2 separate regions of the Homo sapiens genome follow, and region 2 is linked to region 1. Evidence: fine-mapped expression QTL. A gene starts in region 1. The other region holds a variant in brackets. All regions are shown on one strand. Distances are from middle to middle. Region 1 holds the start of CASP8AP2 (caspase 8 associated protein 2). Region 2 overlaps MDN1 (midasin AAA ATPase 1).

Region 1 (2,911 bases):
CTGTAATCCCAGCACTTTGGGAGACTGAGGTGGGAGGATTGTTTGAGCCCAGAAGTTCGTGACCAGCCTGGGCAACATAGCAAGACCCCATCTCTACAAAAATTTTAAAAAATTAGCCAGGGGTGGCCGGGCGTGGGTGGCTCACGCCTTTAATCCCAGCACTTTGGGAGGCCAAGCTGGGCAGATCACCTGAGGACAGGAGTTCAAGACCAGCCTGGTCAACATGGCGAAACCCTGTCTCTACTAAAAATACAAAAATTAGGTTGGCGTGGTAACACATGCCTGCAATCCCAGCTACTCGGGAGACTGAGGCAGGAGAATCACTTGAACCCCGGAGGCGGAGGTTGTAGTGGGTCGAGATCGCGCCATTGCACTCCAGCCTGGGCAACAAGAGTGAAACTCCATCTCAGAAACAAAACGAAACAAAACAGCCAGGGGTGGTGGTCGCTCGCGTCTATGGTCCCAGCTACTCTGGAGGCAGAGGTGGGAGGATCTCTCGAGCCTTGGAGGTGGAGGTTGCAGGGAGCCGAAATCGCTCCACTGCGCTCCAGCCTGAGCGACAAAGCGATACCCTGTCTGAAAGCAAAAAGAAAAAAAAAAGCTAAGTGGACAAACGAGGAAATGGGTAGGGATGAATATAGGCAGACTATAAGTAGCCGAGGAAGGTGGCCTTATTTTCGCACCTATCAATGCTCAGGCTGAGCTCCTGAGGCTAGACCTACCGGCACCCCCCATTCCTACAGGTTCTATAAGGCAAGTCAGGTATTCCACCCTGTAAAAAGCTCTTCTCTCTCCTGCCCCGCTAGACTAGTATCCCCTCCTTAAGGCTCCCAACATCCGAAGCTAAGTTGTTTGTCTGCCTATCATCCAGGAACGCGTCTGAGGGCAGGGAACAAATTTATTCATCGTAATCGAGCCCAGCACTTTGTCTCGCACGCAGCTGACAGCAGAATTTTAAGATAAAGTATTAAATAAATGACAGACCTCTCAAGGCTTCCTGTCTTTCACTAAAAAGCTTCTCTCAGGCCACGCCCCTACCTCCACTCAGGTCAGCCCCTTCCTATTGAAGCCCCGCCCCATCGCCTTCCCCGCCACCTTACACCCCGCCCCTCTCTCTTAAAGCCCTAGGAAGATTACTGGAGTTTGGCGCCAACCGTGTTTTTTTTTTTCCCTTCCAAAGGCGGGAACTAGTTGTGGGCGCTGCGACGTGCTTTGCGTCTGATATGATTGGCCGTAGGCACTCAGTCCCGCCTCCATACCCTGATAGCGCTCTGGTATTGGTGGAGATGCCAGGGAGACCTCGGTGGGCAGAAAGGAACCGGGTTGTCTTGGGCCGGGCAGGGCGGGTAAGTTGTCGTAGGGGCCCGGTCCGTGAGGGACTGCTAAGGAAGAGGCTGCATGGCGCGGTAGTCCCCCGAGTGGAGGTCGGCTGCCCCTGGGAAACCAGAGAGTCGGAGGGAGTCCATCTGGAGCGGCCAAGTAGGTCGGGGAAGGGCCGCGCCTGACGTCTGGCCGCAGGTAGCCACGTTCCCTCCGCCCCCGGTGCAGCTTCAGGGCTTGCACCCTGCGTCCCTCTGTGGTCCTTCGAGAGGGTCTGGGCGGGGACTATGGGTGGGCGCGCCCAGGAATTGTCCCTTCGGCCTCTCGTCCTGCCCCTCCCCCCCACCATCCAGTCTCTCCTTGGAATATACTCTTAAAATCTTTCGGATGGAGTTCTTTGGAGAAATGGGTTTCCTGGAGTGTCAGGTGATCATTGATGTTGATTGTTTCTGAAATGTTTATTTAGGCATCAAACCAACATGCCTAAATAAGTTTTTCATTTCTACAGCGCCTAGATTCATTCCTAGCACATAGTAGGCCCTAACTCAGATGTGAATGTAGGATTCGTAGGAGCTGAGCATTTGTGCTTCAGGCATCAAGTTGTCTTTGACTCTTCGACTCTTCCTTGGTCTTTTTCCATTCTCCACACCTCCAGCAGCAAACCTTTCGCCTCTCCTCAAGGCCTTTCCCCCCCATCTCCCTCAGCGCCTCTTTGACTGGAGGGGGACAGAGGCTTTCATGGCAGGGATTCTCCCATCTCCCTTCCTATCCCCGCTATGCCCTCCAATTATCTTTTCCTGGCGTTCCGTTTTACAAGAGATGGCCTTCTTTCCAAAAACATTTATATTGTATTGAATATTCTTGATTTTGGCCATCTTGCTTTACAGACAGACCTGGGGTCTAATTTCAGCTCTGCCACTTACCAGGTGGTTGCCTTGTGCAAATTTCTTGATCGTCTGTGTTTTCCTCATCTGTAAAATGGGGAAAAGAATAATATGGACCTCATAGAACTCTGGGGAGGATTTAAACTAAGTGAATAATGTATTTAGATCATTTAGGTTAGTGCCTGGAACATAGTAAATGTGCCGTATATGATAGCTTTTGTTAGTATTTGCCCCTTACCTCTTCTTCTGGGGTCTTGCTGTATTAGCCTTTCCCATGAGTGTAAAAATACACTGTCTTCTCTGGCTTTTTCCTGTTTTTCTCTACAAATGCTTGTGTTTTTCTCTAAATTTTATTTTTTGTCTTTTAGCGTCTACATTAAGGACACATTCTCAGTTTCGTAATGATTTTTCTTTTTCTTTTTTCCTTTTTTTTTGAGACTATAGCCCAGGCTGGAGTGCAATGGCAAGATCTCGGCTTACTACAGGTTTGACCTCCTGTGCTCAAGCAATCCTCCCACCTCAGCCTTCCAAGTAGCTGGAACTACAGGTGTGCACCAGCATGCCTGGCTAATTTTTGTATTTTGTAGAGACTGGGTTTTGCCATGTTTCCCAGGCTGGTCTCGAACTCCTAGGCTCAAGTGATCAGACTGCCCTCAGCCTCCCAAAGTACTGGGATTACAAGTGTGAGCCACCCCGCCCAGCCACAT
Region 2 (2,911 bases), 27 kb before region 1:
TCACTTGAACCGGGAGGCAGAGGCTGCAATGAGCCAAGATTGTGCCACTGCACTCCAGACTGGGCGACAAAGTCAGACCCTGTCTCAGAAAAAAAAAAAAAAGAATTAGCCAGGTGTAGTGATGTGCATCTGTAGTCCCAGCTACTCAGGAGGCTAAGGCATGAGAATCACTTGAACCCAGGAGAAAGAGGTTGCAGTAAGGTGAGATCGTGCCACTGCACTCCAGCCTGGGCAACAGAGTGAGACTGCTTCAAAAAGAAAAAAAAAAAAGAAAATAATCAACACATAACGTGTAATTCTAACTTTCTGAAACTGTCTCCAAAGCTATAGCTGAGGGGATTTGGGAGCACAAGTTTAATCAAGGTGAAGAGAAAGCAAGGAAAAAACTGGATAATTTTTTATGAGACAGAACTTTGATACCTAACTGACATATCAGAATAGAGAAAGCCAGGAACGTTCTCAGAGTCCCGATCTTTACTTGGCTGTATATTTTCTAGTTCCATTAAACCAGGTCCATTTTTTTCTCAACCCCTTTTAGAAAAGCTCAGACCAACAGTGTTTTCCCCCAAGTCTTCATTTCCTATTTCCTCATTAAAGGACCAGACTAGATATCATACTTCCAAGAAAGCCAAAGTGTATTTATTGCATTGATGAAGACTAATAAATAAAACACTGGATATAAGAAATGTTCTGTTGGCCGGGCACAGTGGCTCACGCCTGTAATCCCAACACTTTGGGAGGTCGAGGCGGGCAGATCACGAGGTCAAGAGATTGAGACCATCCTGGCCAACATGGTGAAACCCCGTCTCTACTAAAAATACAAAAATTAGCTGGGCGTGGTGGTGTGCGCGCCTGTAGTCCCAGCTACTCAGGAGGCTGAGGCAGGAGAATCAGTTGAACCCAGGAGGGAGGCAGAGGTTGCAGTGAGCAGAGGTCATGCCACTGCACTCTAGCCTGGTGATAGAGTGGGACTCCATCTCACAAAAAAAAAAGAAGAGAAGAAAGAAATGTCCTATTGGTACACAGAATATTAATCATTTTTACAGTGAAAGTTTTAAAAATCTTTTCAATTTAAAAACCCCTGACACTCAGTTTTGCTGTCTCTTTTGATTATTCCTCAAAACTATATTTTACTATCTCTTTAAAAGTCACATTAAAATCCAGCTCTAACACAGCTCTTAGTATACTAATTCAGATAGATTTATAGAATTTGGAAGGGATACTATAGCTCTTCTAATCCACTCCTTCAGCTGCTCTAACAAGCAAGGAATCTTTCCCATTAGAGGTGGATGCTGTAAGAGCCTCAGTTAAACCTCATTTACTCCGCTGTATATGCATGTCTTGCCACA[T/C]GATACAATCCTTGAGAGCACTGGGGACATATCCTGGCCATCTTTCCAGGTCTGTTCTGATGGCCAAGATTTAAGAGAAACCTAGTAAATGCTCACTGAACTGAGCTGGATAAATGGATTCTGCTGTGACTCTTTTTATAAAACAATACTATTTATCTCTCTCCTTTCTGTATTTCCGTTTTACCTTCTCAGCTCAGACTCCCTTACATCCCAGGAGACAGCAGGTTCTATCACCTCAAGGAGAAATGCGAATAATAAAATTGCTACTCACGGGAGGACATCAGGATGGTTACCAATGAGTTTGCTCATCGACACACATAGCCGTTCATGCAGATCATGGTTGATTTGGCCTCCAGCTTTAATGGCTTCGGCATTCCTTTCCAGCAAATCCAAAAGGAGAGGGCGAAGCTGGCGACCAACCAGCACAGTACAGTCCTTATCCAAAAGCAACTGTGCTAAGGTACTCAGGACACACTGGCGATCTTGAGGTGTCCACACCTGAGAAAGGCAAAACAAAACATCTTTCACTTTTTTTTTTTTTTTGAGACACAGTCTCGCTCTGTCGCCCAGGAGCAAGTGCAGTGGTGCAATCTCAGCTCACTGCAAGCTCCACCTCCCGGGTTCATGCCATTCTCCTGCCCGAGCCGCCCAAGTAGCTGGGACTACAGGCGCCCGCCACCATACCCGGCTAATTTTTTATATTTTTAGTAGAGACGGGGTTTCACCATGTTAGCCAGGATGGTCTCGATCTCCTGACCTCGTGATCCGCCCGCCTCAGCCTCCCAAAGTGCTGAGATTACAGGCGTGAGCCACCGCGCCCGGCCTTTTCTTTTCTTTTCTTTTTTTTTTTTTTTTTTTTTTTGGAGACAGAGTCCTGCTCCATCTCCCAGGCTGGAGTGCAGTGGCACGATTTTGGCTCACTGCAACATCCCAGGTTCAAGCGATTCTCATGCCTCAGCCTCCCATGAGTAGCTGGGATTACAGGCACCCACCACCACACCAGGCTAATTTTTGTTTTGATTTGTTTTGTTTTAGTAGAGACAGGGTTTCACCATGTTGGCTAGGCTGGTCTCGAACTCCTGGCCAGAGGTGATCCAACAGCCTCAGCCTCACAAAGTGCTGGGATTACAGGCGTGAGCCACCATGCCTGGCCCAAAATATTTATGTAAATAATATTCATTTGCACTGCTGTAGAAAAGCAGAGACGAGTCCTGGGTTGGAACTAAAATGTCCAATTTCCAGACTTCATAAGTGAGATTCTATTATAAAATATCGTGGAAATTTTTTGCAATGGAGGATCAGAGTTAATTTAATATAAAGGCTGTTACAAATAAGTTTCAGTACACTGGAGTTTGAGGTACAGGGACTAATACCTGGATTCCATTTAAAAGCTACACGACTTATCTGAAAAATAATCTATGTGCTGGGGTTTCAACAATCTCCAGGGAATTCAAAACCCCAAAATTCCCCCAGCTCCTTTAACTCTTGAAGAAAAAAATGAATTCTGCAGTTAGTAGACAAAACTTCCAACTCTTCAGGAAAGGACAGAGGTAAAAAATTAA

Evidence for each region. PIP is the estimated chance that this variant, and not a neighbour inherited with it, causes the effect.
Region 2: its variant is fine-mapped to the expression of CASP8AP2 in whole blood (TOPMed, PIP above 0.99).

What each region holds. Positions count from the first base shown.
Region 1 is chr6:89,828,589-89,831,499 of GRCh38, forward strand. It overlaps CASP8AP2 (caspase 8 associated protein 2), which reads left to right and starts at 1,292. Exons shown (of 10, transcript NM_012115.4): 1 at 1,292-1,518. RefSeq lists a silencer at 642-691 and an enhancer at 792-981.
Region 2 is chr6:89,801,708-89,804,618 of GRCh38, forward strand. It overlaps MDN1 (midasin AAA ATPase 1), which reads right to left. Exons shown (of 102, transcript NM_014611.3): 2 at 1,621-1,847. Among named protein-coding and RNA genes, the nearest start is that of MDN1, 17 kb to the right of the region's middle. RefSeq lists an enhancer at 1-249. The variant T/C (reference allele first, on the strand shown) is at 1,350.